Homo sapiens: one gene and its partner. The protein of the gene in region 1 interacts with the protein of each later gene in a biochemical or structural test. Each region holds a gene or a part of one and is shown in the gene's direction. Other genes may lie near its edges. The genes, in order: MUC13 and GALNT14.

Evidence for each region.
Region 2: of the proteins of MUC13 (region 1) and GALNT14, one has a biochemical effect on the other in vitro, tested with the Homo sapiens proteins (one study listed by BioGRID).

What each region holds. Positions count from the first base shown.
Region 1 is NC_000003.12:124,929,517-124,946,033, reverse strand, and holds the start of MUC13 (mucin-13 precursor), read left to right. Parts: upstream 1-11,282; 5' UTR 11,283-11,321; coding exon 11,322-11,373; intron 11,374-16,517. UniProt on the Homo sapiens protein: Epithelial and hemopoietic transmembrane mucin that may play a role in cell signaling.
Region 2 is NC_000002.12:31,131,229-31,147,536, reverse strand, and holds the start of GALNT14 (polypeptide N-acetylgalactosaminyltransferase 14), read left to right. Parts: upstream 1-9,096; 5' UTR 9,097-9,450; coding exon 9,451-9,579; intron 9,580-14,890; exon of another isoform or gene 14,891-14,907; intron 14,908-16,308. UniProt on the Homo sapiens protein: Catalyzes the initial reaction in O-linked oligosaccharide biosynthesis, the transfer of an N-acetyl-D-galactosamine residue to a serine or threonine residue on the protein receptor.

The sequences.
Region 1 (16,517 bases):
TCAAGGTGAGGTTTTCCTGTTAAACATGCTCCCACCATATCCTGAATGTGTCCTTTATAAAAGTACTCTGCACAGTTCTTGCTGCAGAAATGATGGCTCTAGTTCATTGCTGTATCTCCAGAGCCTAGAACAGTGTCTGTCCCTGATAGTGCTCATGGTACTCTCAAGTATTTGGTGAATGAAGGAAAAACCCTAAATTCAACATATTGTTGCAAGTTTCCTTTGTTATCAACTATAAGCTGAGTTTTAATGGCTACACAAGACCCTTCTCATGAACTCACCAAATTTGTCTTGACCAAGCCACAACTTTTAGACATTTATATAGTTTTACTGGGTGTGGTGGCTCACACTTGTAATCCCAGCACTTTGGGAGGCTGAGGCAAGAGGATCACTTGAGCCCAGGAGTTTGAGACCTGCCTGGGCAACATGGTGAGACCTTATCTCTGAAAAAAAAAAAAACTAAATTTTTTTCTTTGAAAAACAATAATGAGACCGGGTGCGGTGGCTCACGCCTGTAATCCCAACACTTTGAGAGGCCAAGGCGGGCGGATCACCTGAGGTTGGGAGTTCGAGACCAGCCTGACCAACATGGAGAAACCCCGTCTCTACTAAAAATACAAAATCAGCTGGGTGTGGTGGCACATGCCTGTAATCCCAGCTACTCGGGAGGCTGAGGCAGGAGAATTTCTTGAACCCGGGAGGCGGAGGTTGCGGTGAGCTGAGATCACGCCACTGCACTCCAGCCTGGGCAACAAGAGCGAAACTCCATCTCAAAACAAAACAAAAAAACACAAAAAAATACAAAAATAATGATATATTTATACAAATGTATTTGAGCATATGTCTGGCTATTTCCTTGGGATAAATTCCTAGAATGGAATTGCTTGATCAAGAGATAGATCCATTTTAAAGGTCTGTGATACATATTGCTGAATTTCCCTCCTCCAAAGGCTGTTTAAATACCTTCCCTACTGCTGTGTTTGAGGCCTGTTTCCCACACATCATTGCCAACAGCAACCATTGCCATTCTCTTCATCTTTGCCAGTTAAATAACCTCAACATCATGGTATCTAATTGGTTCCCAGGGCTAAAGCAATCTCTAGGAAATTGCTTATGAGTATGTGTCAAAGGCAAATTTGCCATCAAGTAAAAGGTTTCTGAGAAAGTCAAATCAAAGATTTCCTCTGGCAAAGGTGACTTGGAGCAACAACAATAAAATAGAACGTGTAGTTAAAGATTATGGAGATAGTTGTGAGTTGAGTTCAAGCTTTGCATGTCTGTCTAAATGTCATTATGTTCTCCCGGAACTGTCAGCTACACGGAGAGACTTTCCAGGAATGGGTTCCTATTGCATTAAAGTTGATAAGTTTAGCTCTAGCTCTGGCATTGTTCAATTTTCTCTTTTATTAGCATGTTGTGACATTTTTCATGTGGTAGAAAATGTGTATTTCTTTTTTAGTTAACTCACCTGTTTGCTTCTCTGCTCTCACACTTTCGAAGGCCCTCTTCCTTGCCATTCACCCTACGGTGTGCCCTAGCACAGTGTTTTCCAAACCTGTCGGTTTTGTACCTCCCTCATGATTTTTGACAAATCATGTATTATCACTACACTTTCTTACATATTTTTGTTGAAATTGACCTTTTTTAAAAAAATAATTAACTGAATTTTCTTTTTCTTTTTCTTTTTTTTTTTTTGAGACATTGTCTGGCTCTGTCACCTAGGCTGGAGTGCAGTGGCACGATATAGCTCACTGCAGCCTCAGCCTTGAACTCCTGGGTTCAAGCGACCCTACTGCTTCAGACTCCTGAGTAACTGGAACTACAGGCATGTGCCACCATGCTTGGCTAATTTTTATAACCTTTTTTGTAGAGATGGGGGTCTCACCATCTTGCCCAGGCTGGTCTCAAACTCCTGGCCTCAAGTGATCCTCCTGCACTGGTCTTCCAAAGCTCTGGGATTATAGTCATGAGCCAATGTGCCAGGCCAAACTTAATTTTAAAATAAACTTTACAGCTTGGTGTGGTGGTTCACACCTGTAATCTCAGCGCTTTGGGAGGCCAAGATGGAGGATCACTTGAGCCTAGGAGTTTGAGACGAGCTTGGGCAAGATGCTGAGACCCTGTCTCTATGAAAAAAAAAAAAATTTTTTTCTGATTTAGCCAAGCATGGTGGTACATGCCTGTAGTTCCAGCTACTCAGGAGGCTGAGGCGGGAGGCTCACTTGAGCCCAGCAGTTTGAGGCTGCAGTGAGCTGTGACGGTGCCACTGTTCTCCAGCTTGGGTGATAGAGCAAGGCCCTGTCTCCAGAAAATAGATAAATAAATAAAAGCAAATTAACTTTACATCACCACCCCAAATTTAGAAGAAAAAAAAACTAGTTTCCTTTGCCATGGATAGAAAATAGCCATAAGAAACATAAACAAAAATAAAGTGTTATTAGATTACCAGGAGTTTGGTTGCCAAAGGCTCTGTGTCTGGGGCCTGAGCTCTCTTCCTCACAAAGAGAAATATGTAATTATTAGAGAAGAGTTAAAGATATCTTAGCAATACATGAGATTTTCTCATTGTGTAATCAGAATGACTGAAATTTGAAAAGGCATAACTTTCCCCTCCAAGTGAATCACTGTTATCTAACGCTGTGTCCATGGACACTTAAAATCATCTTGTGTGCCACGAAGGCAGTGGTCCTCAGAGCTGAGCACCAGCAGAGTCACACTAAAAATACAAAAATTATCCAGGTGTGGTGGCACATGCCTGTAATCCCAGCTACTCAGGAGGCTGAGGCAGGAGAATCACTTGAACCTGGGAGGCCGAGGTTGCAGTGAGCTGAGATCATGCCATTGCACTCCATCCTGGGCAACAAGAGTGAAACTCCATCTCAAAACAAAACAAACAAACAAACAAACAAACACAGATTGCTGATTCAGTAGGCCTAGGTGGGGCCTGAGAATATGCATTTCTAAAATGTTTCCAGGTCATGCTGGTGCTGCTGGTCTGGGGAACACATTTTTGAGGACTGATGCCCTAGTTGTATCATCTCTCATTTTAGGAATAACTGGACTGGGTAAGGCTGAGAGGTACAAACCCCAAAGAGGGGCAAACCTACTCCCACCCATTGTTTTCAGTTTTCCTCAGAGCAACAAGTCCAGGCCTGGTGCTAGCATCTCTGAGGACAATGTTTTAATCTCTGGAACCACTCGCTTCCTCTCTGAAGAGATCTGAATTACAATTTGTGGCCACCGCAAGAGCTTTCTGATCTCAGTCAAACCTCCCATAGTCTTGATGGGTGAGTAGAGGAGGAAGTGGGTGAGAAATCAAACTCCTTCCTGGGGAAAATCTCTTTATAGAACTTCTCCAAGAGTTTCATTCCAAAAGATAATAAAATGAAATAAAATAACAAAATAAGAAGCCCACAAAATCTCTCATGATGTGAAATTTATTTTTAGAGCTGACTAAACTCAGTGAGGTGAGTAGATAAGCAATTGTGAAATTTTATAAGCCAAGACTCAAAAAGCCAATGCCTGCTCCTTTTGAAGGTCAAGGTGTTTTGGAACACATCTCCAGTGGTTAAACACATGGCTCGGCGCAGCGGCTCTCGTCTGTAATCCCAACACTTTGGGAGGCCAAGGCGGGCAGACTCCTTGAGCTAAGGAGCTCAAGACAAGCCTGGGCAACATAGTAAGACCCCATCTCTATTAAAAATACAAAATTTAGGCAGGCGTGATGGTTGCAACGCCTGTAGTCCCAGCTACTTGGAAGTCTGAGGTGGGAGGATTAGGCGGAGGTTGCAGTGAGCAGAGATTGCACCACTGCACTGCAGCCTGGGCGACAGAGTGAGACCCTGTCTCTCAAAGAAAAAGAAAATCTATACATTCGTACTTGACCCTTTCTCTGAGCCCATTACATCGTGGGTGTAAGAAGTGGAAGTCGCCATGAGAGTGCTCGACCGCCGTCCTGCCACCCAACAAAGCAAGTCATTTTCATGTGTTCGTGTTTCCTGCCAGCGCTTATCTTTATGGAGGCAAATTATGGAGGCATGGTTTTTACATAATTAGAGATATAATGAGAATCCTGCCTCTTCAACTTCTATTGTAGTAGAATAAGCACTTCCCCATAAGCACTTCCCCTCACGGCTGCGGTCTTCTGCATCGTACCGTGTGTGGATAGAGTCCTACCTCTCATCAAGGGTGGTCACCACATTTAAACCTCTGTTGTTGGGTAAGGTTGTTTTCAATTATTTATACTGTATATATGTAATACTGCAGCAAACATATCTGTACATATAATTTTCCCTTCATTTGAAATTATTCCTTGACCAGGCACTGTGGCTCACGCCTGTAATCCCAGCACTTCGGGAAGCCGAGGCAGGAAGATTGCTTGAGGCCAGAGTTCAAGACCCCCGTCTCTACAAAACTTAAAAAAAAGATTTTTTTGAAGAAATTATTTAAGATAAAGTTCCAGAAGTAAATTTCTCAGTCACAGGGTAAAAACTTTTTTGTTTGTTTGTTTGTTTGTTTTTTAAGACAGGGTCTGGCTCTGTCACCCAGGCTACAGTGCAATGGCACAATCACAGCTCACTGCAGCCTCAACCTCCTCCCACCGGCTCATGAGGCTCAAGCAATCCTCCCACCACAGCCTCCTGAGTAGCTGGGACCACAGGCATGCAACACCATGCTCGACTAATTTTTTAATTTTTTGTAGAGATGGTGTCTCACTGTATTGCCCAGGCTGGTCTCAAACTCATGGACTTAAGTGATCCTCCCACACTGGCCTCTCAAAATCATGCCCAGCCAAGAACATTTTTAAATTGCTCTTAATACCTGTTGCCAAATTGTAGCATATTACAACGTAGCAATTGTAAAGCATATTGAATTATTTGCACCCCCACCAGAGTTGGATATATCATTGTACACATTTTTAAAAGATGTAAAATATTACACCAGTGTGGTGGCTCACACCTGTAATCCCAGCACTTTGGGAGGCCGAGGCAGGTGGGTCACTAGAGGTCAGGAGTTCGAGACCAACCTGGCCAATTTGGTGAAACCCATCTCTACTAAAAATACAAAAATTAGCCAGGTGGGGTGGTGTGCACCTGTAATCCCAGCTACTCAGTAGGCTGAGGCAGGAGAATTGCTTGAACCTGGTAGGTGGAGGTTGCAGTGAGCAGAGATCATGCCACTGCACACTAGCCTGGGTGGCACAGTGAGACTCCATCTCAAAAAAAAAAAAATTAAAATAAAAAAAAAGAGGTAAAATATAATCTCACTTTTGTTTTAGTTGTAACATCTTTAAGATGAGTAAAGGCCGGGCACAGTGGCTCACACCTATGATCCCAGCGCTTTGGGAGGCCGAGGCGGGTGGATCACGAGGTCAGGACATTGAGACCATCCTGGCTAACACGGTGAAACCCCATCTCTACTAAAAAATAAAAATAAAAAAATTAGCCAGGTGTGGTGGCGGGCGCCTGTAATCCCAGCTACTCGAGAGGCTGAGGCAGGAGAATGGCATGAACCCAGGAGGCGGAGCTTGCAGTGAGCCGAGATTGCGCCACTGCACTCCAGCCTGGGTGACAAAGCGAGACTCCCTCTCAAAACAAACAAACAAACAAAAAAAGATGAGTAAAAAGCTAAATATTCTTCCCCCACATATTTACTTACTAATAATATTTTCTCTTTTGAATAATTTGATCATGACAACCAACTTTTGGAAGATAAATTGTCTGAATGCACTGTGGGTCTGAAGACCCCAAACTGTGTCTTATTTCTTTGCATTCCCTGTTCCCTGCACCTAGAACAAATCGGACGGCCTTCATTCATTCCTTCCTTTCTTCCATAAATCTTTACTGAGCACCTGCCATGTGCCAGCTGTTCTGGATGCTGGAGACAGAGGAGTGGACAGGGAAGAGAAACTCTCATGGAAGTTAGGCAACAGGTAGCTAAACCAGCAAAGAGACAAAGTAATTACATATTGTGATGAGGGCTATGGAGGAAACGAACTGAGGTGGGATGGTCAGGCGAGTAGACCAGCTCCTTTAGATAAGGCCCCCAAGGAAGATCTGGCCTGTCGTTCTCCTGCTTAAATGTTCCCATGGCTTCTGCCATTGTGCTTAGAATAAAATCCACATTCCTTTCCACAGCCTCTAAGATCCTGTAGGATCAGGCCCCAGCCTGCCTCTCTGACAACATCTCCCCCCAGTCTCCTCCTAAATCATGGTGCTCTTCAAACACACCAGACTTGTTCTGGCCTCAGGCCTTTGCACTTACTACTTTTCTAGCTGGAATGCCCTTTTTCTGATGTTTATATGGCAGGCTTCCCTTCAATAGCAGCTCTCAGTTCCGATATCAGCTCCTGCAAGAAGGTTTTGCTGACCATCCTATTTAAAGTAGCACCTCATACCCCACAAGTCACTATCCCATTGTTGTGTTTTATTTTCTTCAGAGCATTGACCACTCTCTAAAATCATTGTATTTAATTACTTTTTTTGCCGACCTCCACTACCCATGATCTCACAGAAGCTTCAGGAGAGCAGAGACCTTCATCATCTTGTTCACTGCTTCATCTTCGATACCTGATGGATGTGCAGAGATGCCTCGAGTACCTGGGAGTGACTGAACAGCCCCCTCCTGAACATTACTCATGTAAAGCAACCATTCACTGAAAAGTTAATTTCAGAGGGTATAAAAAGCAAGAGTGGAAATGGTTCTGTCAATGTGTCATCAATTAGACATTTGAGTTGGGAATATTGCATTCCACAAGTCATTTCTCTGGGAATGGTCTTCTGAATTAGAGAGGAAAATGCTGATCAGCTTCATGTAGTATCTAAATGTGATATCCGTAAATGGTAGTAGTGACTCTGGGAAGGCTATACTCACACCTCTATTGAGGGGCTGGAATTAGTGAGAAGGAGATAGGAGCTTAACATGTATTTACATTTGGTTCTATAGACAGAAAATAATCTTTGGGTCTAACTATTTAATCTTGATAGAATTTTATGTTTTAATGATCCTCTAGAGCCTTATCATGGTACTGCAGTGTTGCAGAATCAAAGTAGCCAAAGAGGAGCTCTTTTGTTTGAGACAGGGTCTCGCTCTCTCGCCCATGCCGTGGTGCAGCAGTGCAATCTCGGATCACTGCAACCTCCGCCTCCAGGGTTCAAGGGATCCTCCTGCCTCAGCCTCCCAAGTATCTGGTACTACAGGCATGCATTACCATGTTAAGATAATTATTTTAAAATTGTTTTGTAGAGACAAGGTCTCACTATATTGCTTAGGCTGGTCTCAAACTCCTGGGCTCAAGCAACCCTCCCACTTTGGCCTCCCAAAGTGCTGGGATTACAGATGTGAGCCACCTCACCTGGCTAGAGAGGCTCTTGATGGATCAAATTCTAATTCTAAATGGCTCTGATATAGCTCTCTTGAGTTTATGCCTAAATAACTGGATATTGCTTTAGATTAATGGGCATGTCCCATTCCTCTGCATAGTCAATAGAATTATTGAAAAGCTCACCCTGAACAATAGTTCTTTTGCAACCAGGTAATTATGGGTAAACAGCTTTTTTTTTTTAGCTGACTTGGTGACAACGTTACCAACATATAACATTGTTTCTGTGGGAAAATGGAGTCTGTGTTCTTGACTTATAGATAAATACTTAGAATTTAGCCATTTCATACTAATAAATATCAACCCTTTTTCCTATCCAGGTTTTGAGTTCTGTGAGAAGTAAAACACAGAGTACAACAGATGGAGACAAAATATTACTTTTATAGAAGCTTATTTTTGAGAATGTGGCTTAGGGCTCCCTCCTTCTGGATCCTTACCTTCTTGGGCACAACAATCCTGAATCCAGGTTATCTCCCCAAATGGAAACTGCAGGATCTGAGGTGAGTATTCCCAGTTTATTCTGAAATAAGTCACTACTCTTCCTTTAGGGCAAAATGAATAAAGACATGCCAAGAGGCCAGGAGTGTTTCAGGAATTAAACTCCCTCCATTAGTGAGGAAACATCAGCCCTGAGGAAGAAGAAGTTTCCCTCATGAAAGCTCTGTGTATTGTCTCTGTCATCCTGCAGTACTGAAGTCCTGTGTGGATGCTTTAGGAGCGGGCATACCGGTGATTGCTGATTTATACTTTGAGGACTGCCTGACTTTCTGGCTGCCCATATTTTTCCAGATGATAAGGCCAGGGAAGAGTCAGGGAGCCAGATGCTTGGCAGTACTCCATGCCTTCCTGGTTATACTTTTCATTCTATGCTCAGCAGATAAGTAATATAGAAAACCATGGAAATATTGACACTGTTGTAATATGGTGGCATCAGTAGACATTAGTGATAGAGCACTGTGGGCGCTACTCACTTGATATCTTGAATCTAAGACATGATGGGGTGTGATAGGCTTCTCCCAGTTTAGGAGACAGGATTTGAGACCCTGCATTTGAGATCCTGCAGCTACTTATGTGACCCCAGGCCACTTTTTCAATTTTTCTAGATTCCTGGTTAGGCTTTTATAAAGTGAATATAGTAAGTTTAAAATGCCATATAAAAATGACAGAAAAGGAGAAAAGATTTGCAATACATATGTAAAGAACTTTTACCATTAAAAACCAAGAAGAAAACCAATTCAACGATACAATGTGCAAATTATTTGAACAGGTACTTTACAAAAGAAGAGACACGAGTGACTAATATGCACATAAAATGATGTTCAACATCATTTGTCATCAGGAGATGCAAATTAAAACAAAAGTGAGATGCCACTACATACCCTTTAGGGTAGCTAATATAAAGACGGACAATACCAAGTGTTGGCAAGGATAGGGAACAACTGGAATTCTCATATATTGCTGATGTAAAATGGCATAACAACTTAGGAAAACCATTTGACCATTTATTAAAAAGTTATATAGCTACCATGTGATGCAGCCATTCCATTCTAAATATTTACCCTAAAGAAATGAAAGTGTATGTTCATACAAAAACTTGTACATGAATACTTATAACTTTTTTTTTTTTCTCGAGATGAAGTCCCGCTCTGTTGCCCAGGCTGGAGTGCAGTGACGTGATCTTGGCTCACTGCAAATAATACTTCCGGGGTTCAAGGGATTCTCCTGCCTCAACCTCCTGAGTAGCTGGGGTTACAGGTGCCTGCCACCATGCCTGGCTAATTTTTGTATTTTTAGTACAGATGAGGTTTCGCCACATTGGCCAGGCTGATCTCCAGCTCCTGATCTCAGGTGATCCACCTGCCTCAGCTTCCCAAAGTGCTGGGATTACAGGTATGAACCACCACACCTGGCCTTATTTATAATCTTTTTGTTTGTAATAGTCAAAACTAGAAACAACTCAAATGTCCATCGACAGATGAATTACCAAACACGCCATGGTACATTGATACAGTGGAATAGTGTTCAGATATAAGAAGAAACAAACTATGAATTCACACAGCAAGGATGAGTCTCAAAATGGTTATAAGTGAAAGAAACTGGCTCAAAAAACAAAACAAAACAAAAAACTACATCTGTATGATTCCATTTACATAAAATGCTAGAAAATGCAGACTAATTTATAGAGACAGAAAGCAGATCAATGGTTACCTGGGGTTGGGGTGGAGTATAGGGGATGTAGCACTAAAAAGGGACAAGAGGAAAGTCCCAAAGGGTGTGTTGGGAATGCTCGGTATCTTGGTTGCAACGGTAGCTACACATGTATATACATCAATCAAAATTCGTTGAACTGTACACTGTAAATAGATACAGTTTATTGACATAAATTATAGCTCAATAAAGCTAGTTTAAAAAGAAAAGAAAAACAAGCCTTTGTTTAAATCCTGATGCCAGGAGTTATTCAAGCTGAGAATAATAGCATAACATAATGGGCCTTAGAAGTGTCTTTGCTTTGGAAAAAGTGTTTAAATGGACCTCTCAGCCATGTAAGAACAAACCCCTGTCTTATTCTTGAATGGAGACTCTAGGACAATAAGCAGCTTATCTGCTGGGCGATCATACAAAAATGTTTTGTTTTCATCAAGGTCAGGGTTAAAATTTAAACCCAAAGGCCAGGTATGGTGGCACACGCTTGTAATCACAGCACTTTGGGAGGCTGTGGTTGGGGATTGCTTGAGTCTAAGAGTTTGAGACCAGCCTGGACAACATGACAAAACCCCATCTCTTCTGAAAATACAAAAATCAGCCAAGCATTGTGGTGTATGCCTGTAATCCCAGCTACTTGGGTGACTGAGGCAGGAGGATCACTTGAGCCCTGGAGGCAGAGGTTGCAGTGAGCTGAGATCGTGCCACTGCACTTCAGCCTGGGCGACAGAGTGAGACTCTGTCTCAAAAAAAAAAAAAAAAAAAAAAAAAAACTTAAACTCAAAACTCTAGCCACAACTCACAAGGTATCATTAGTTTATATTCCTCTGGCTGGGGCTAGACACAGTAGAGTTGGGGCCCTGGACTTTAAGGAGGGAAAATTAGATTAAGAAGACCCAAATCCAAGCAGTAAAGCTGGTTCCTGACACATGGTGAGAGGTGAGGGGCTGAGGAACTAGAGAGAGGGTGAGAAAGGGAACTGAGAAGTGGGGCCTGCCCAATGAGTGGCCAGGAGCAGAGAGATCAAATCAGCTGTTCTAAGTTTTCTCTTTTCTGTACTTTATTGCCAACTCCCCAACACACCAGTCACCCACAAGACTTCAGTAAAGTTAGGTTAAATGCCATGATGTGATGTCCATTGTGCTTGGGAACTTTATTGGGGGCTGTATCCAGGTAGAGTCACAGAAGCTTGGAGATGTGATTACAAAGTTGCTAGACATGACCATCAGAGAGGCCCGGAATGGTAGTCCCCAGCATACAGTGACAAAAGTTAAGCAACTAATAATTTTGGGAAACATGTAAGTCCTCTTCAGGGATTCTCAGAACTACAGCTGGAGGAAAGTGGTTTCCTGCACTCATATGTGGGTGAGTAGAGCACAGTTTGTTATTGAATGTTTAATGGAATGGTGACCTCCTAAAAGATGGCGGCTTGGAGACATTTGAGATATCAAGAGATTAACCAAACTCATGTGCCACCAACCTCACAAGGATATTTGGAATGTCCTGACTTATTTTGGGCTTTGAGTCAGAAAAATGATTCGTAAGGCCAGCTCCACCTCTTCTATCTCAAAAGCTCGGAAGAGATCTATGGTATTTGGCCAAATGCTAGCTATAATTGCCTTTCTGTGGTTTGACGTCAATTAATGACTGGACTTTGTACCCGAAAGACAGTTAAAACGAAAGGTAGCCAGGAAGGGAAATCATTTCCTCCTCAGATTACCAAGCAAGAACAGCTAAAATGAAAGCCATCATTCATCTTACTCTTCTTGCTCTCCTTTCTGTAAACACAGGTAAGGAATATTTTTACATTTTAATTCTTCCAATCATGTATGTTGTCTTTGAGGTAGAATCAGCAGGCCTATAGCTACCAATTCTCCCAGCCCAGCACATGGTCTATTTTATAAATGAAGTTTCCTCTCCAGCTCAGCTCAAAGACACAGACATTTTATCCTGTGATGGGGAAGATAGAGCAATAGCAAAAGTGGTCTGTGGGCTGGGCGCGGTGGCTCACGCCTGTAATCTCAGCAATATGGGAGGCCGAGGCAGATGGATCACTTGAGGTCAGGAGTTTGAAACCACCCTGGCCAACATGGTGAAACTCCATCTCTACTAAAAATACAAAAAAATTAGCCAGGTGTGGCGGTGGGCACCTGTAGTCTCAGCTACTCAGGAGGCTGAGGCAGAAAGAATCGCTTGAACTCGGGAAGTGGAGGTTGCAGTGAGCTGAGATGACACGGAGTGACAGAGCGAGACTCCATCTTGTAGGGGTGGGGGGAAGAAGTGGTCTATGGAGTGAGATCTGGGGGCTCAGCAAACCAGAGGTTTCTCTTTGAGAGTTCCTGAGGCCAGATAAGAAGGACTAAGTAGGTTGCAAGGACCCAGTTCTCTACTATAGCGTTCTGGATCCCCTCTCATGATAATCAGAGAGCTGACCACAGCAAAAAGCCTCCTTTCACAAATGTACTTGAATTTGAGAATGCTAAACCATAGGGAGTAATTGTCACGTTGATTAGACTTCAGACATGTACTCTCTGTTCTGAGTTAGGAAGGGTTCTATGGGCCACATGTGGGTGAGGTCAGCAGTATGTTGAGAGGTGAGGGTTGTGGAGGCCAATTGGCTTCCTAAAATTTTGCAGAAAAATCACTGGCATGAAGTAGATGGACTAATAGGAAAAAAGGCATACAACTGTATTTAATGTGTGTACCCAGGAACCTTCAGCATGAACACCCAACTTCCTGATGAGGTATAGAAGCTTATACACCATCTTGAGGTTACAGAAAGAAAGGGGGCTTGGATCTTGGTAAAACAAGTTATGGAAGAAGGGAGAAGAGGAATTCTGTTGAGGGGCAATAAATGATTATTAGGGAGAATAATTGGATCTGGGAACAAAAATGAACTTGTAGATAATTCTCCTTGGAATTTAAAGATCCTTGGAGACAGTCCTTATCTTGATGAAGGGTCAGCTCAGGGGTGGTTTCCTTCTCGGTCTTCTTTCCTGTAGTGGATAATGACATAACAGGGAGGGGAACAGGAGCAATAGTTCTTCTTTGGTGGATCAGTCCTTACAGCGCTTGTTGACCTCTAAGAGTTTTTAATTTAAAATACTCATTATATCATGGAGCTATATTTGGGGGTGAAATATTTTTATTTCCTTCAGGTTCAATGAGTTGAAATCTAGAAGCTGCTTGCAGAAAGGAAGAAAGTATTTGATAAGGCAGATGTATGAAGAGAAATTAAGCCCTTTCAGAGAACTGGAATGAATGGCATCAGGATTAGAGTTTTTTGAGAGCTGGTTTCAAGCTCTTAATGCTGGAAGGTTGGAGAAGGCTAGCTGCACAGGAGGGGAGGGCTCACCAGATCTCTCCTGCCAACCTTGGGGGCAGATGCTAGGTCCAAGCCTTCAGGACAAAGGAAGAATTGGTGAGGCTTGTATGACTTTCAGGAGCCACTGTTAAAAAAGGCTTGACTTTTTAAAAATAGAATAGAAGGGCGGTAGAAAGGGGAAAGTTGGCTGGGAGGGGACAAGGAGATGAATAGAGAGTTAAGGGAATCAGGAATCATTGAGGCTCAAGGGACCTTAGGGGAATGGAGATGTTTCTTGACCCAGAGAACCCAGGGGGAAGGGCAAAAGTAGGGCAAGCAGGGATTCAGATGGCATGCCACCACTTATTAGCTGTGGGGTGTCTCTGACCCTCAGTGTCTTCCTGTGTAGCAATAGAGGGGAAATCCCTATACTGAAGAGTGACTGAGAGGATTAAATGAGACAAAGAGCCTGATGTGCCGGGATACTGCCTGGCACATAGGGGCTTAATAAATGATTTCCCTTTTTGTCATGTCTGCACTTGGATCTGATTTTCTTTTCTTTCTTTCTTTTTTTTTTTTTGAGACCGAGTTTCACTCTTGTCGCCCAGGCTGGAGTGCAATGGCACGATCTCTGCTTACTGCAACCTCCGCCTCCCAGGTTCAAGCGATTCTCCTGCCTCAGCCTCCAGACTAGCTGGGATTACAGGCACCTGCCACCACACCTGGCTAATTTTTGTATTTTTAGTAGAGATGGGGTTTCACCATGTTGGCTAGGCTGGTCTCAGACTCTTGACCTCAGGAGATCCACCTGCCTTGGCCTCCCAAAGTGCTGGGATTACAGGCGTGAGCCACCACGCCCAGCCTGGATCTGATTTTCAAACTTTGGTTTTGATTTCCTCTTCTTTGTTTAAAAAAGTTATACAAGTAATGCAGACCCACTGTAACAAATCCAAACAATACAGATGTATATGAAATAAAAATTGAGCATCCAATCTGACTTCCCACCCATCTACCTCCAGATATATTAATACTGACAGTTTTGTGGCTACTAAGGTTTGCTTTTGAAAAAAATATTTATTTTATTATTTATTTATTTATTTTGAGACAGAGTTTTGTTCTTGTTGCCCAGGCTGGAGTGCAATGGCGCCATCTTGGCTCACTGCAACCTCCGCCTGCCAGGTTCAAGCAATTCTCCTGCCTCAGCTTCCCAAGTAGCTGGGATTACAGGTGCTCACTACCACACCTGGCTAATTTTTTTGTATTTTTAGTAGAGACGGGGTTTCACTACATTGGCCAGGCTGTTCTCGAACTCCTGACCTCATGATCCGCCCGCCTTGGCCTCCCAAAGTTCTGGGATTACAGGCGTGAGCCACCGCGCCTGGCCTTATATTACTTTTTGAGATGGAGTTTTGCTCTTGTCGCCCAGGCTGGAGTGCAATGGCACTATCTCAGCTCACTGCAACCTCTGCCTCCCAGGTTCAAGTGATTCTCCTGCCTCAGTTTCCCGAGTGGCTGGGATTATAGGTGCCTGCCACCACGCCCAGCTAATTTTTGCATTTTTGGTAGAGATGGCGTTTCATCATGTTGGCCAGGCTGATCCCAAACTCCTGACCTCAGGTGATCTGCCCGCCTCGGCCTCCCAAACTGCTGGGATTACAGGCATGAGCCACCGCGCCTGGCCTGAAAATTTTTAAAAAGTTGCTTTTTTTTTTTTTTGAGACAGAGTCTCGCTCTGTTGCCAGGCTGGAGTGCAGTTGTCACGATCTTGGCTCGCTGCAACCTCTGCCTCCTGGGTTCAACCAATTCTCCTGTCTCAGCCTCCCAAGTAGTTGGGACTACAGGCGTGTGCCACCATGCCCAGATAATTTTTGTATTTTTAGTAGAGACAGGGTTTCATCATGTTGGCCAGGATGGTCACAATCTCTTGATCTCATGATCCACCCACCTCAGCCTCCCGAAGTGCCGGGATTACAGACATGAGCCACCGCTCCTGGCCTGAAAATTTTTAAAAAGTTGCTTTTTAATGTAACGTTAAGGATTTTGGAGGTGTGTGTAAGGAATCACTACTTCAAACATGAGTTCCATCTCAGATTCTGAGCAACCAAGGGCAGGAAGTGTGTCTTGTACACCTTTACGTTCCTCCTCACCCCTATGCCTTGTATAGCACCTTGACTGCAAGAACCCCCGCACAAGCATTTACTGAAACAAATGAAAAATGTGCCAGTGACATTTGAAGAGCCTTTAACAGGCAAAACTTCCCAGGTTGTTTTTGCTTTCTCTGAGAGACTAGGACTGCATTATTCCACAGAATCTGATGAGTGCCTTTGGGAACCAACATCTCATCATAATGAAGAATTCAGATCTGGGAGAAAGGCGTTTGATTGTGACTTTCAGCTAGCTTTGAATAAAGCAGTTATAGGTGTGCCCTGGACAGGGGTGGTGATTATGGAGTGTTCCCCAGAAAGAAACCAGGTCAGGGCATATATTTTCCCATTGAAACCTATGATTTGTACCTCTGTGGACGTTGTGCTATCCTTGTGTTATTTAGAAGCTTTAGGACCTAAGGAAATAAAAAGACTAAAGTTATTTCTACTGCACAGATGTCTTCATATATTTCTGTTATCTATAGATTGAACAAAATAGGTTATTTTACAGTTCCTCTTGGGTATTTTTACTAGATAATTTAAGCCTGGGATATCAGCTCTAAGCTGTCTTCCCTGAAATCTATACAACCCTCAGATAAAACACATATATACACATAGACACACACAAGTGTATTTTAGTTTAAAAAAAAATCGTAGCTATTCACAGCAATGAATTGCTGTCAGCTTGGAATGTGTCTCATTTATTAAAACTAATTGAGCATTCTGAAATGTATTCTCCCTAGTGAACAGAAATTTAAAACCAAAATAAACAAGCCACCAAGTCCAAAACTCCTTGTCATAATTCCAAAGACCTGCAAAAACCTCTCAAGAAGTCCCAATTTGTTTTATGCACATCTACAGAAACATGTTGGTTCTTTGGCATCGGCCGAGAATGAATATTCCCAAAGCATGAAATTCAGGGTCTGGTGGGGTTGGGGTTGTTTGCACCCACAGTCTGCCAAGTCCTTTTCTTCTGTCCAGAGTTTTCCACAGCGAGAGCCAGCCCCTGGCCACTCTCACTGCTACTCCGATGATAGAGGGCACCGTGGAGGTCACTTCTATTTCCACCGCTTTCATTCTGATCCCCAATTTTCTCTATTTGCTTTTCTTGTGTTTGTTCCTCGGGGGTCTTGGCTTTTTCATTAAATGGATGGCCTTCCCCATAACTTTAATCAAGTGATAGTTAGGACATTGTCATCTCACAGACCTGGCTTTGCCTCTGGGCAAATTCCTTAACCCTTCTGAGTATTGGTGGGCTCTTCTGTCAAATGTGGGCACTTATGTCTACTTCACAGGTACAGTCGGGCACAGGGCCAGTGCTTGATAGATGAGAACTATCCTGAGTGGCAGGAATAGGAAGACTGGCAGTCAACATTGCCAGTTGCTGATGTATTTCTTACCTAGGAAGAGCAATTGCTGATCTCTTCAACACTTCTGAATGGCTATGTTAGCCAAGCCCTCTTCAAGGTGAAGAATCAGGCTCTGC
Region 2 (16,308 bases), on another chromosome or scaffold:
ACTTTGCTGTTTTATTTTTTATTTTTTTCTCTTTTTAAGTTTCTTAAAAATTGGTGTTATATGATAATAGGACATTATTTTACATTCATTTAGGTGTGATAATGGTGCTGTGGTTATGTTGGTAGATGTTATTAATTTGGGGAATGCATGCTGAAGTACTTCTGGGTTGTTTAGGGTTATTATTTAAGTGTTATATATTATGACATCTGTAATTTACCTTTCAGTGGTTCAGCAATTATAAACCCATGCATATGTGGGCACGTACATATATATGGCAAAACATTAACTGTTTTTGAATCTAGGTATATTACATGTGTGGGTGTCGAATATACTATTGTTCTATTTTTCCATATGTTTGAAAATTTTTATAATAAAGTGGCCTGTAAAATAAATTCTTCCAGTGATACTGATTCTCTCTGTTTTGAGAACCACTGATGTAGAGCTATAGAACACGTGACCAGTGACAGTCTGTGAGTGGACTCTCCATGTGACTAATTATGACATGGGATTATCTATGCTCCTGGTTCCAGTTTAAGAAGAAAATAAGAGAAAATCTTTTAAATTTCCTCCTTGATGTCTCATCAGAATTGGAGCCGCTTTTCCTCTGCAATACTGGTAAGGTTCTATTTTCCTTTGCTTTGTTTTGACAGTCTGATTTGTCTGTTGCACTGAAATATTGAAACGGTACGCCATCTTTCCCATTTCCAGGGAGGCCTACAGGTGGAACTGATTGGACTTGAAGGTATTGATTAGATCAGTGGTTCCCAAACTTGGGTGCCTAGAGACATCATCCATAAAATTTCAGCAGGCTTAGGGTGAGGCAGTGGCATGTGACTCTTAGCAATAACAAGAGATAATTCTAATGTATATCTAGGTTTGAGACCCAGTGTTTTAAACTATGATGACAACAAAGTCAAGGTCATGGGTTTGGTTCCCAATTTAAGAGATATTTAGCTTTTCATGGAGAAAAGTTCCATTCCATAGTTACATTCTCTACACCATACTCTGTTCTACCATTTTAAAATACGGGTCCTGGTAGAAAAAAAATGAACCAGGAAAAAGAAAAAGGTTTTAGGAAAAAGAAAAGGAATTAGGGCAATTTACAACAATGACAACAACATATATATATATACATATATGCACAAAGTCATATATGTATGCACAAAATCATATATATATAAAAATATGATTTTTCCTTCTTGTTAGAATTTGGTATATTCTGTTACAGAGGTGGCTGCATATTATTGATGGGTGAAAAGAGGTTTTTATTCGTTGTTCTTTCATTACCAAATGTATCAACTACCTCAGGAATTTTGGATGAAAAGGTAAAAATGTTTTGTCAGCATCAGTGAATCGTGATAAAAATGAGTGATGTTTTTAATGAAAAACACTTGATGAACACTTACCAGGCAAGCATGAAAGGAGAAATTGAACCTCAGGAAACAGAAAAATGAACCCCCACTCACCAAACCATTTTTGTTATTAACACTTTCTGGGGCCTCTAAAAGAAAGGAAATGCTGTAAAGGAAAACAAGAGCAGCTCTCTGGCACGGCCTTGGTTTCTGCAGTAGGAATCAGCAGGATCCTTCACCGGCACACCATAAAGCAGCTTCCCTTGTTCTTATGTAATATGTCTTTGCAGCTTAAACCTTTAATTAACCAGAGATGTCATCAAGAAAAGTTTGCTAAGGAAGAGGATGCCTGGTTTAATTAAAAAGATCTTTAATAGTTATTAAGGAAATCAATTTGGAATTCAGGCCTGAGAGCAGTGATGGGGGAAGAAATCACTGAGAGGAACTTCTCCATCTCTCTGGGTAATGGATTTTAACCCTTTGATCTGATCTGCTTTACAATCCCCAGGGCAGTGGTCCAGGGCATGGAGAGGGATGCTTGTCACTCATCATTTTTAAATCTACATCCCAGATGTAAGAGAGCAGTTCTGCCTTACATGGCAGAAGCCCAACCTTTCTGGAATGCAGTTATCCTGGCAATTGAAAGAAATAGGAAACCTTTATAAATTGAAAATCTCCTACCTCATAAGTATAAGCTATTTTTTTCCCCAAAGAGATGCATTATTTCTCCCTGAGGATTTGCACTTGGACTGTACATCAGGCGTTTTCCCATTACTGCTCCAACTGGCCTTCTTCGGATCAAGCTAGAAAAAGGGATTTGGCTCTTTGGAGCATAAGAGAAATATTATTTTCACTTGTCTCATGAAAATGATGACACAAAAGGTGAAATAGCCAGAGGATGGGCAAAATAAATTGTCTGTGTGGCAAAAACTGTAAAAGGAAAAGAGTTTTTCTTTTAAAAAACAGCATTCTGCCAACAGGGGAATGATATTAATATCATCATCTGACGCAGCCCAGTTGAGTTCAAATGCTGAAAGCACTTCTCAAATAATCTATGTTTAATTAACATTTGCACAGCACTTAGAGAGGGAAACTGAAGACAGGTGCAGTGCAGAGCTGCAAAAACGACTTTCCTGTTGCAATGTAGCTATTTCTCAGGTGGACTGAAGCGCCTCTATCTAGGACTCAACATTACTCAACAGAAACCCAAGAGGAAGGACTAGATCTTTTAACACTCAAGGCTTTATTCAAATCACCAGCTTACATTTTCTAGAAGAGCTGGAACAGGCCTTATTTATTTGTATTCCTCACAGCAAATTGCCCAGAGTCTTGGTCACAGTGTCTTTGTTCATTGTTTTGCTCATTACCTAGAAACTTCTGGGCTTAGCAGCCTCCCCATCCCACCGTAGAAATGCCTCAGCTCCCTGATTCACTTGTCCTGTGAAACCTAGTGAGGGATGTCACTTGGGAGCAATGTTGGGTAATGCAGATATGTTATAGCCCACAGTTTACCAATGAACTCATCTTGCTGTAGGCAGTTCGTGCAATTTCTCTGGGCTCCACTTTTCTCAATCACAAAATGAGGAGTATTGAACTACATTAGAGTCTAAGGCCCCTCCTAATATAATCTGGTGTACTCTTTACCCTTTGTCCTAGCTTGGTAGATCTGTTCCCACATTAGAAGATGGAAACCAGGAAAACTTCAGTACTTATGGAAACACTGGTGGCTGGAGTAGAGGTTGCAAGCTGGCAAGCAGCAGGCTGGATTCAGACTGCAGACCTGTTTATTTAGCCCATCCAATGTTTTGGTGGGCTGGTGGTGGGGGTGATTGAATTAATCGATAACAGTTAAAATCCAGGAGGTTTCACATCGTCATCTGGACTTATGCTTTTGTTGAGGCTGGAAAACTCTGGCAACACTTTACTGGCACTGGCAATGATGAGTTGGAGCTGATTCCTTGCTAGTCCAGTGTGGGCCCCGCTACTCCCTACTGTGTCCTCAATATGAAGGTTGAATAGCAGTTTCATTGTTGTCATTGTGTTTATGCTATTTTTCCCCCAACCCTATCTCATTTCACTCATTCATGTTACTTTCATGGCCCATGTAGGTATGTGGGTGAGAGGAGGAGGTTGTTGGAAGAATGATTGGAGTCTGGTGTCAGGAATCCCTTGCCCTTCAAAGAGACAGTGTGCTGCTATCTGGCTGCTTCCATGAGCTGCAAAGTGGGTAAAACATCTTCAGTTGGGTGGATAGGATAAGACTGTCATTGACTGATATGCGCAACCTAATTACTTCCTTAGTTACTTAAAGCTGGCTTCATTTGTCCAAATTGTCTCTTCTTTGGATAAGCATCTTGACTATTGTTTACTTAGAATAATGCCCCACATGAACAGAGTATCCCAAGTTCAGCACACATACAAAACAACTTAAATAGCAAACCCACATTTTTACTCATCTAAGAAAAGCAATCTTCCTTCTAGAACCATCACCAGAAGTCCTCCTGTTGATTAGAGTGGCCTCTAATTTATTGTCTAAAATAGAAATTTCTTGAAAGTAAAATGAGGCAGTATAATAATTATGCCAGAAAAATCAGAATAAACCAGGAATTTCCCAAGCAAACTGGGGCATAAAGCCACCCTGCTCAATGTGCAATATCTGGTAGTGACTTGATGACAAAATCTGCTGTCGGTCACTAGAGATTATACTGGATTGTCCCAGGTCCACTCCTGGGGTATGCTTGGCTCCTCTTGCTGCTGAAGTCCTAGCCAGACTGGAGAGGCCCCATCACAGTTCTATTCCTTCTTGGATTTGAGCTCTCCTGCCCACTTCTACCTTTCACTGATGCCTCTAAGCTTAAGCCTAACAGGAAAGACTGTCTTTGTCAGAGATAATGCAAGTGGCTCTCAGATTTGGTTGTCTGAAATTGGGGACCTGGGGAGTGACATCTGTCCTTAGATCCTTCTATTTCTTCTGCCTGTGCTGCCCTCTGTCAGAGTCTCCTCTAGATAATTCAAGGGAAATAATTTTCTTTTTCTTTCTTTTCTATTTTTTTTTTTTTTTGATGATGGAGTTTTGCTCTTGTTGCACAGGCTGGAGTGCAATGGCGTGATTTCAGCTCACTGCAACCTCCGCTTCCCGGATTCAAGCCATCCTCCTGCCACAGCCTCCCGAGTAGCTGGATTACAGGTGCCTGCCACCATGCCCGGCTAATTTTGGTATTTTTTAAAAGAGACGGGGTTTCGCCATGTTGGTCAGGCTGGTCTCAAACTCCTGACCTCAAGTGATCTGCCCGCCTCGGCCTCCCAAAGTGCTGGGATTACAGGCGTGAGCCACTGTGCAGGTCTCTTTTACTTTTCTTTAGGCAAACTGGGTCACACCTTCATGCTAGAACTTTGCATATTCTATAGGGGCTGGGGGGGGGGTGGGGGAAATTTCTCAGATCACCACAGGGCACCATCACTGAAGATCAAACCACTTTACACAACCAGCAAAGACATATCATTGTAGCAGTATTAAGTTTTACACTTGGCATTTGGGTGAGAAACAAAGAAAGTTTGGGGCATTTCAAACAATAAAAGAAGCAGGCTTTTGAAATGCAAAGATATAGATCCCTTTCAAGGAATCGAATATAAGAATAAAAGGAGGGAGAGGAGTTGAGGGTAGTGGGCTGGTGAAAGGAGTTGTTTAATGGAAAGAGAAAGATCCAGAAAGGTGACTGTCAGATCCCTTAGATAAAGCCACCCATCTACCCGTCAAAGATGAGAGGAAAATCCAGCTGGCTTTATTCTTTTGACAAAGATTCACTGATGTGGCAGAAAGATGAGGTAAGGGGTTGGTAATAGCTCATCCTCATTCACCACGTGGTTTAAACTATTCCATCACTCACTCTATAAGAAAGCCTTGCAGGAAACCCAGGACATGCGGTTTTGACAGGATCTATAGTGGCAAGGAAAATGGAGAGGAACACAGAGGAAAGGGGAGCTGATGTATTATTTACAGTGGAGAACTTGAACAGAGTCAACTGCAGGAGTCAGCCCAAAGACTTGTATCTGTATGACTGTGGAATAAAGACAGACAGATCTTTGAATTTTCACTGCCGCTCTTTTTGCTGCTGGGCCAGCATGTGTGCGACTCATCTTCTCACTGTGCTGCAATCTGCCCTGCTACTGCTTACCTTTCCCTATGGCCCAGAAGAGGTAAAGACCTCAACAGAAACCTGTCTGGGCCTCTGTGGGTGAAATTTCGTTAGGTTGGCACAGAGGGTGTCTCGCTGATTGTGACAGGTCTAATAAGCGTGCAGATGGCAAGAAGCACACACACAGCCACTCGCGCACACACAGCCTCCCTGAAGTCATGCAGTGGGCAGAGAGGAGGGACTCAGAGAATCTGATCCAAAAGGAACAAAGGCTGCAGCCTCTGCAGTGGGCTGAGCGAGAATGATGGGGAGACGGCTACAGGAAACGAGAAGCGAAGTGTGAGAATCCACAGCAAAAGCCGCCACAGAGCATATGCATCGGACTTCACAGCTTCCTCCTGCTTCCAGCTTGCATTTGCTCCATATGCTGCTTTACACTGCTTTCCGGGCCATAATGGGTTTCATTCCATAGTTTTTATACTAACATGAATGACTCACATCTGCTCCAGTACCCAATTTGCTCTCTAATGTCTTCGGCTGTGAGGAGAGAACAGCTTACACAGAACTCGCCAACAACAGGAGTGGTAAAGAAGGTCCTGATCCAGGACAAGAAAGGTCAGAACCCTAAATGCGTCAGCTGGGAGGGTCTTTGAGAGAACATGACATTGCCGATGGGAAACCACAGACCCAGAGGAATGAGGAGCTTGGCTCAACAATATCAAGACTGAGGAGGTAGATCTGTTTTAGGAGATCCAGGAGAACCAGGAGAGTCCTAGTTCAGAGTGTATTTATTTTTTTTCATTTCCTGCCATGTTAAGTCTTTTGCTAGGAGCTTTTCCTCCCCATATTGGCTGTGATAAGAAAAAAGTAACTTGGATTAATCGCCAATGATAGCTAATCCCCCGCTGGGATCAACCATACTCTGCATTACTTAAGCTTGTTATTTTATTTATTCATTTTTTGAGACAGGGTCTCGCTCCATCACCCAGGCTGGAGTGCAGTGGTGAGATCATAGCTCGCTGCAGCCTCAAAATCCTGGGCTCAAGTAATCCTCCTGTCTTAGCCTCCCAATTGGCTGGGACTAGAGACACCTGCCACTTCGCCTGGCTATTTTGTTGTTGTTGTTGTTGTTTAGAGACAAGCTCTCGCTATGTTGCCCAGGCTTAAAGCTGGTTATTAAAGCGTTTCAAATATATTCCTGAGCATGGGGGACCCCTGGATAGACTGGGTTCCTGGAGAGACCTACAGAACTAGGCCCCGCATGGACACTCACTTCACTTCCAGATGTTTGAAGTCCCACTTGAAATCTACTTCAGTCCTAATGATATTTACTGGTTTGACAACCCAAACTGATATCTGATATGATCTCTGGATGGATCAGCTAATGACACCTAGCAAAACTGGATTCCCTTGACAGCTTCCATAGGCCCAGGAAATCTTCCTCACTTGAGTAGAGGACAAAATAATGATTTGAGAAGAAAATCATTCCTGGAAGGAAATTCCCACTCTCTGAGACATTGCAGTCCCTGCACGGAGCTGCCTTCACCCCAGGGCCTCAGTTTCCCCATATGCCAAACAGTCAGAATGAGGCACCTCAGCATCTCAGCAGTGTGGTGAGCAGCGTGGTGGTGCTGCACCATCTCAAAAGCTTGGCGGTGTTCTTGTGTAACTGTCTGCCATCTGTTACTCAGAAGCGGCATTACAAAGCGCTGAGCAATGGACTCCTGTGCTGCAGCTTCTGCCTGGAGCCAACAGCAGCTCAGCAGCTTGCCTGGGGGTCCCCTGCAGAGCCTGCAGCAGAACGCTTTGCAGGCCCGAAACTGCAGGTCCCGGGTGAGGCTCCTGAAAGAGGTCCAAGGTGCTTGGGATGCTGCAGAGGTGAGTTCTCTTGCTGCTCCCCCTACCCCTCCCATGATGATCATCTACCTGGGCCTTTGCTGGGACAAAGCATTGGCTGGGGAGCCTACTCCCACCTTTCAGTGTTCAGAGTTCTGATAAAGGCAAATGCTAGATCAACCCTGGGGTTCTGTGTGATGGTCTAAGAGCGCAGGTAGATCTTGAAAGGGCTGGCAACAGTGCTCACCTTTTCTGGGCTGTTTAATTTCAACTGCGGTTCCCAACCCCAAACATCTTATCTACAGTCCAGTCAAGAACTCTCTGAGGTTGAGGCAGGACTTCCCTGTGGCTGAAAGATAAGGTACCAAAAACAGGAGGCTTTGAGTAGACGCCTCCATTTCTCAGTACATGTCTTTGGGGAGACATCTTATTGAAGAAGGAATTCCAGAGCCCTGATTTACAGCTGTCTCACCTGTGCGGAGGTATGGGAGCTTGCCCTACACTGAGCTTTATGGGGAGAGAGGGGCAGGGAGAATGGTGGCTGCCACAGTGGGTGCATCGTTCTCACCTCCCCAAGAAACTCGATGAAGCAAGCAACCCTCCAACAAAAATGGCATGGTTCCCGCTGCCTCTGCTCCCCAGACAGAGCAAGGTTTCCCCACTTTGAGTGGTCAGATAACACCAGCACCTTGCATTCAGCTTTCACCACTACTCATTTGCTTGTCAGAGGAGGTATTTTCCCTCCATTTTACAGATGAGGAATCGAAGACTGGGAGAAGGTAAATGACTTACCCAAGACTCACACAGTGAGTGTGACAGCTAGGTCAGTACTCTCTGGTCAGTGATCTGGCCGTGATTCCAGCCTACTTGAGCCTACATGGGAATTGGAGTTAGAATTTGCTTTGCTTCTAGATCCAAGCGGTTTTAATCTGCAAGTGGGAGGGGGATACAATTCCCAAAGGCCCTTGGGAAAAGGGGCTTTTGAAAGATCACCCTCTGCACCCAGTATCCTCCTGCCCAGGGTCACTTTCCAAGAATCCCAAGTGGTTGTTCCAACTTTGGACCTCTTTTCTTGCAAGCACAAAGCCCTGATGCTTACAGGGAGAGAAAACCTTTATGGGAGATAATTGCGCCTTAATTTTTTAAAGGATATCTTTAAAGTTAAAATTAGACCAGCTCAGCTTTCCTTCCGTTAAGCAGAAAAAGTTACCAGGCACCTGCAGGCAGGCATAGAAACACCCTGGGGAGTTGGCTGACCGCGGCCTTGGCCCTCAGTAGCCAGGCAAGTGAACCGCGGGTTTGGGGCAGCAGCCCTGCCGGCGCCCTGGAATCCCAGCCTTGGCTGTGGTAGGACGAGCACATTGGGGGTGGGACCCCGGCTTCAGCGCCACGTGCAGCCCCCGCGATGAGCGGGAAAGTCCTCCCAGGCACAGCGCCGCCTGGCGAGGGCCGGCCCTTGGGTCCCAGCTGGCAGCTGGGGGTGGCGGGCATCCCGAGTGCACCGCTCCCGCCCCGCCCCGCCTTGCCCCAACCCACGATGGTCTGGGAGCTGCGCCCAGGGCTTGGCGCTGGCGGCCCCGCAACAGCACCGAGCGTTTCGGTCGGCGGGCGGCGGTAGCGCCCCCTCTCAGAGCCCCGCTCACTCCCACCTGGGCTCGCTCCGAGTCGGCCTGTCTGTCGGGCCCGCCCTCCCCGCTCACTCCCTCCGCCCTCGTGCTCCTCCCGGGGTGCTTGGCACAGCCTCGGATTCCTCCCTCTCGCTGCTCGAGTCAGTTTCCCTATCGGCGGCAGCGGGCAAGGCGGCGGCGGCGGCGGCGGCAGCCGCGGTGGCGGCGTGGGGAACATCTCGGCAGCCACCGCGCTTCTCCCGCTGGAGCGGGCGTCCAGCTTGGCTGCCCTCGGTCCTTCCCTGCCACGTTTCGGGTCGCCCTGCACCCCCCACCCAGGCTCGCTTCTCTTCGAAGCGGGAAGGGCGCCTTGCAGGATCCTGCCGCCCCTCCAACCGGATCCTGGGTCTAGAGCTCCCCAGAGCGAGGCGCTCGCCAGGACTCCTGCCCCGCCAACCCTGACCGCCGGGGGGTGCCCCCGGGACGTAGCGCCGCGGAGAGGAAGCGGCAAAGGGGACCATGCGGCGCCTGACTCGTCGGCTGGTTCTGCCAGTCTTCGGGGTGCTCTGGATCACGGTGCTGCTGTTCTTCTGGGTAACCAAGAGGAAGTTGGAGGTGCCGACGGGACCTGAAGTGCAGACCCCTAAGGTAGGCGGCTTGCCGGCGCGCTGGCGCTGAGCGGTGGCTTGCGGGAGGGCGCGCAGCCCGCGTGCCGGGTTTGCGGGCTCCCGGGAAACCAGGGCGAGGGTCTGGGTGCTGCGAGCAGGTAACAGCCGCCGGATGTGGCTACCATGTGATGTTTCTGGATTTTAAAACGCTCGGGGGCATCTCCGGACCCGCGGTGTGCATGAGTGGCAGTGGGTGTGGGTGGTGGGCGCGCGCTCGCCTGCGGAGCGGGGCTCCCAACTTGAGCTGCGCGCGAGGGTCCCGGGGCGGAGGGGGCTCTGCGGACGGGCGGCCCAGGGGCTGGCGGTCTCCGGGCGCTGCCAGAGAGTCGCCGGCGGTCGGGTCGGGCCAGCGCCCGGGCGAAGTGTGGCGGCTGCGCTGACCTCCTTCCCGCAGCTGCCAGGCCCGACCTGGGGAGGCCGGAGGCCGGGTGCGCCGCGCGCGCCTGTGCGTTGCGGGCGAGCGCCTTGCAGCCTCCCGGGCGGCTGCCACCCCTGTTCTCTAACTGTTCCCGACCCTCTCAGCTGCATTGGAAGTTGAATGTGCCCAGAACACCACGAAAGAGCCTGTAAAAACAGACGCCTTGGTATTGGCGGGGAGTTGAGGAAATGGGAATCCAAGTGGCTTTTCCAACTCCTGCTCAGTCAGTTCCTGTGAGGGAGCCAGAAGGTTCCCCCTATAGGCTCACTCTTACCTTCAGATTCAGAGCCCTGTAGGGGGAAAGGGAAAACTTCCCCATGGCTCTCCGAAGGTTCACTGAAAATCAGTTGACAAAAGGCAGATCAATAGGAGAAAAGGCATAATAATTTATTTGATCATAGTTTTTCGTGACATGGTAGCCTTCCGTTTTCTCTTCACAGATTTGGCCCGGGGACACGGAAGGAGGCCTCTGGGGGATTTCCTGGCCAGCCAGGCAGTCTTTATAAACTGGGTCCAGAACAGTCGTCTAGGGGTCTGGGCAAAAGCCTTGGAGGAGCTTATGGTCGGAAATGGGAGACTGAAAAACAGGAAGATGTGGGCGGGAGGTGGCGTCTCACCAGTTAAGTACAGTACAGAGGGCCTACTGTGTGCCAGGTGCATAGTAGGTGCCTTCCTCATAAGTAGTTGTAGGAGTTGGGTGGTAATATGCTTGTTTCATAGATCAGGAAAACAGGTTCAGGGTCTTTAAGTCACGTACCTTAAGTCGTTCTACTGGTTTGAACTCCAGCCTCCACGCTCAGGGTTTCCAGTATATCAAGTTGCCTCTCGGTTTCCCCTTTTTAACCAAGTCTTCTAGCACTTATGTTCTGGAATCTTGCCAATGCTTTGTCGATTTCAACAAGCATTTATTTAGCACCTATTGTGTGCTCAGGCAGTGTGTTAGGTGCTATGGGTAGAGAGAGATAGAATTTACTCTCTGGGGGGAGAGGAGTTCACTCATCATTGGACCAGGATGTGAGGTGTGCATAGGGCTAAGAGGGTTCAGTGCACTGGGTGTCATGGGAGCCTGAGGTCTCCCTGGAGGAGGAGGACATAACAGAGCTGAGCTGAGAAGGATAAACAGGTTTGTCAGTAGGTAGAAAGGGCATTCCAGGTAGAGGTTAACTGCATGAAACAGGCTCAGAGGAATGACACAGCACGTTGTGTGAGTTTGGCATAATTTGAGCACAAAGTATGTGGAGGTTGGAGGGATAAAGTTTAGGGAGGTGTGTAGGGGCTGGGTGGGGTAGAATCTTGTGGGTGTGAGGACTCTTGGAGAGGGTCAGGCAGTGAGGTGGCGAGGCCAGATTGATGACTTCAAACCACCTTTAATAGCACCAGATCACTTTTCTCACTCAGCCCCTGCCCATAGATCTGGAGAGCTTTTCTTCTTTTTCCCTAGGTGGTTCTGCTCCCTGTGATGTAGTTAATGATACCTGCAGGGACATGAACTTTCTCTGTTTTGCTTCGACCCTCATTACCTTAAGCTTGCTTATTCTTAGTTTACACCAGGGATCTGGGACAAGAGACCTGTTTCTTTCTTTGTGCACTCTTTGTCCCTCCTCCTCTCCTGCCTCTTCTTATCCTGGCGTGTGCTCAGCACACATCTATCACAGGCAGCTGTATGCCAGGCTCTGTGCTGGGTTTGGGGGCTGCTATGATGAGCACGCTGTGTCCCTGTCCTTTGGCATGGGGGTGGGGGGCCACATAAGTTGCAGGATGAGGCAGAATTACCAACAAATGAGTGGTACTTTAAGGTGGGGAGTGGTTTAGTAGCAGAAGTCAGGACATTGTACTGTGCAGTCACAAAAGAGGAGGTTTTCTAGTTTTGAACCAGTTGCTCTTTGTCTTAACATCTTGTTCCTTCTTTTCCTCATTTTCTGTATCCTTCTAGAACCATGAATTTTTATAGACTTAGAAAATCTTGACACCTCTTACTATTAGGTGTCTTCTTTTTTTTTTGTTAGTATTTTTCTTCTTCCTGTTTTTCCCTTGTATGTATGTCGCTCTGTATCTTAGTGTGTATGTACCTGAGAAGAGAGGAAGAAAGACAGAGACTCCTTAGGTAACGCCAGAACAGTTTTATTCCCTGTGACTTTGTATGACAAGTCCAAATTTATATGACATGTCCAAAGGAGCACAGTGGTACCGAAACCTGGCTGCATGTCAGAATCACCTGGTGAGCTCCATTAACATGCAGATTTTTGGGCTTACTACAGAGATTATGCCTCTGTGAGTTTGGGAGAAGGTTCTAGAATTACTGTTTTTACCAGGGTTGCATGTGATTCTGAAGCAGCCTATTGATGGGTGGCATTTGGGAGCTAGATGAAGAATACCAAGTCTGTTGATCGTGGTTTGGTTGGCTGCATGTAAATATGGTCAAATGATTTTCTTCTTGAGTGTGCTTATGGACCTAACCCATGTAAGCCTATGCATGCATGTTAAATAACAGCCACCAGCATTTCTATAGGGCTTTACAAATTCACAGACTCCATTTACATATATTAGTTCATTTAATACTCACAACTGCACAAGGGAGACAAGATAGTACTTTTATGCAGATGACATTAAGGAGGTGAAAAATTTGGCCCAAGCTAACCAAGCTGTCCAAGTGGCAGCATCAGGACAAGAATGGAATGGGATCCCTCCTGAAACTGCCCACTGCTTGCTTTTTCCATGCCGTTAAACCCAGAGACTGCCTGAATTGACAGCAGGAATTCCCCACCCGCTTCCCAGAGCTCCCTTGGCTCATCCCTAGATCCTCACCCTTGGAGAGCTCCCAGGGGGTTTGTGTAAGGGAGGTGCTAAGGCAGGAGCTACTGCGGAGGGACATCACCCCTGCCCTTGGAAGGCACCATGTGGGGCACAGGAGGCTCCCCTCACTGGATGGAGCACACCCTGATGAGGAGAGTCCCTGTGTTGGGTGGTTGCAGAGGCGTTGGTTTAGGAGGCCATTTGCCAGGGCAGAGATTGTTTCTTCAACAGTAGGAATTCGGATGGGACTTCCATCTATCATAGGGAAAAAAGTTGGTTTTTGAGTGAGTTCCGTGCTGTAGGTTTTCCTAGCGTGTAATCATGGGGACAGCTCTTTGCCTTGGACATGCTGAAGCCTTGGAGAGGTTTTCTTCCTGCTCAGGCCTCTAGGCATCTTCCCAGCATGGGTGAGGGAGTCAGCTTTTCTTCCAAAGCAAGAGGAGTGGGCTCCCTTCCTTTGAATGTATTCAGAGAAGTTGGGAAAGGTGTAGAGATTGGAGAGAGCTGTATTAAGGGCTCCTGGTCTGGGGAACTACCCGACCCTTAGATTCTGTGGAGCAGATTGCCTTCGGAGAGGCAGGTTCTGGTTCTGGGCCATCAGGCCCTTGTTCTCTTTTCCTCGTGGTCTTAGGAAATGTCTCCACTCACCTAGTGACAGGATCTCCAAAGAGGGCGGGATGAAATGAAATCTCTGGTCGCTGGGCCCCAGTGCAAGTGAAGTGAAGAAGGCATGCTACACTCCTGGCTTAAGGAAATTTATTAGACTTTTTTCTTAGTTTCAAGAAGGGCTGATTCTTTCTATTAATAGCTCAAGTAAAGAGTTCTTTAAATTTGACTTTTTAACGTTAATTTCATTCTTTTACTGCCTCCCCCCCAATTATCCAGCAAAGCTCTAATTTCTAACTGAAAAATCCTGTAACAAATTGAGTGTTTTAATTCAGACTGTATTTGAATGGTAAATACTATGCCACTTAAAAGTAGCTGAAAAATGTTTTAATTTCTTCTCTCCCTATCATTTGTTTGCCATTTGGAGAATCATACAATAACTGACTAAAATTTTAAAAATATCAGCAAATTTGTCTCTTATTTCTAAGAAACTAAATATAGTCCAGGTGTTTAGGGCTTAGTAAAAGCAAAAGAATTGTAGGCCTGAGGGTAATTTTCAAGGAAGGTATTGGAAATGTAAAGGCTTTGAATAAAATGCCTCTGGCCCATGTAAGTGTATTGGTGCTGTACTAGAAATACAACAAACACCATTAGAAAATAGCTTGTCTTTCTGTAACATTTGCATCCCACCAATGCCTTAAGTATATGACACTGTTATTTTATTCCTCATTTAGTAGATAATTTCTCTCATTAAAAAAAGTCATAAATTTTAGAGAGAGACCCTATTAATCTACTCATACTTGGTATGTGCATATTGGACTCTGTCCAGGGAATTTTGTAACTGTCCAACGGGTTCTTGTTGCCCGCTTCCTAGACAGAGCCAATGTATCAAGACAGGGGAATTGCAATAAAGAGTTTAATACACGCGGAGTGGCTGAATGGAAGACTGGAGTTTTATTATTACTCAAATCAGTCTCCCCGAAAATTCAGAGACTGGGTTTTTTTTTAAGGATAATCTGGCGGGTAGGGGGCCAGGGAGTGGGAAGTATTGATTGGTAGGGTTGGAGATGAGATCATGGGGAGTCAAAGCTGTCCTCTTCCTCTGAGTCAGTTCCTGGGTGGGGGCCACAAGACCAGATGGGCCAGTTTATCGATCTGGGTGGCGCTAGCTGATCCACCCAGTGTAGGATCTGAAAAATATCTCAAGCACCAATCTTAGGTTTCACAGTAGTGATGTTATCCCTAGGAGCAACTGGGGAGGTTTAGAATTTTGTGGCCTCCAGCTGCATGACTCCTAAACCATCATTTTTAATCTTATGGCTAATTCGTTAGTCCTACAAAGGCAGTCTGGCCCCCAGGCAAGATGGGGGTTTCTTTTGGCAAACGGCTGTTTTCATTTTTGTTTCAGGGTTCTTCCCAAAGTTAGTGCAGCCTACACCCAGGATTGAACAAAGACAGCTTGGAAGTTAGAAGCAAGATGGAGTCTGTTAGGTCAGTTCTCTTTCACTGTCAATTTTCTCATTGTTGTAATTTTTGCAAAGGCAATTTCAGTGTGACTCTGGCATGACCAGAAGTAGCCCATGATGAGATGCATGCTCATCCTTTCAGTTGCTGTGTGGGTGCCTGTACAAGGTGCTGTGCTTTCTTTCCATTCTAAGGCAGTTCCCAGGAGCAGGTGTCTGGGTGGTGGTACACAGCTGGCTCCTGCAGAGGCTCTTGTGAGTGACTGAGAAATATGCAAATGGCAGGTTGGGATCCCAGGTAGTCAAGAAATCATATGTGGTCACTTCTTAGATGTCAAGAAGCTTTTTCTAAAACAAAAACAAAAACAAAACCACTGAGCCTCTATCCCATGGGTATGGTGAGAAATTCACCGTGGGTCATTTTTGGCCTATTCTGGGTTGTCCCAAGGCCCGGAGTCCAGGCCTCTGGTTGTCAGCGCTGAGTCAGTGGCGGATGTGCTGTGTCCCAGCTTCCTTTCACTCTCCTAGCCCACTCTCTCCCCCAGGTCCCTGCAGGAGGCCCTGTCCCAGGGACCTGCAGATGGAATCTCTTTTAGTCAGGCTGGGGAGCTCTATCTCTCCCTAACCTTTGTTTCCCAAAGTGACCTGATAGTTTTTGGAAAGAAATACCAGGAATTCCTCTCTCAAACTTCCCCAGAGGCACAGAATGATACCTACTCAAATCAGAGAAGACAGAGGGGCAAAGCAGGAAGGGAAGATCCATTAATGGCCCTGTCACAAGCCTCCCCAGTCTGTCCAGAGACTAACCTTTTTCAGGGCTGCCCATCTGGTTGTATCATTTAAAAGTGCTAATTTCCACTCATCAGAGGTCATTTATAAACTGAACAGGGACGGAATAAGGCTGCCGTGGGCTGACGCCTGAAGCCCAGGATTCCTGCACAGCTTGGTTTTCATGCCATCTGATTTTACCTCCTGTGCCTACATCCTACACCATGCCTCCCCATCCCAGCTTTCTGAAGTGGTCTTATTCATTGTCAGACACCCAGGAACCAGTTTTTGAAGACCTTCATTGCTTGAGCCCTTGTTTCATTTCTAATGTTTGCAGTTTTGTCACTCTTCTATAGCATCCCAAAGTCCCCAATGCATTTTTTGGAAAATAATCTGAATTAGAAAGCAGGGCCAGATCCCCAGCTCCTCTCCTGGGGGAGTCTGTGAACCCTGCCATGGCTTTTGAATATTCCACCCCAGAGACCTAGAATCGTAGACTCACCATCTGTTTGGGGAAGTGAGTCTGGACATGCCCGTGCCCTCTACCACTGGCTGCAGGCCCCTGCCACTTGCCTGTATTTATCCTGGGCTGGGTGTGAGCCTTTTTCCTCACAGGGTCCTCAGAGACTCATGCTGCACACAAGCGGCAGGAGATAGAGAG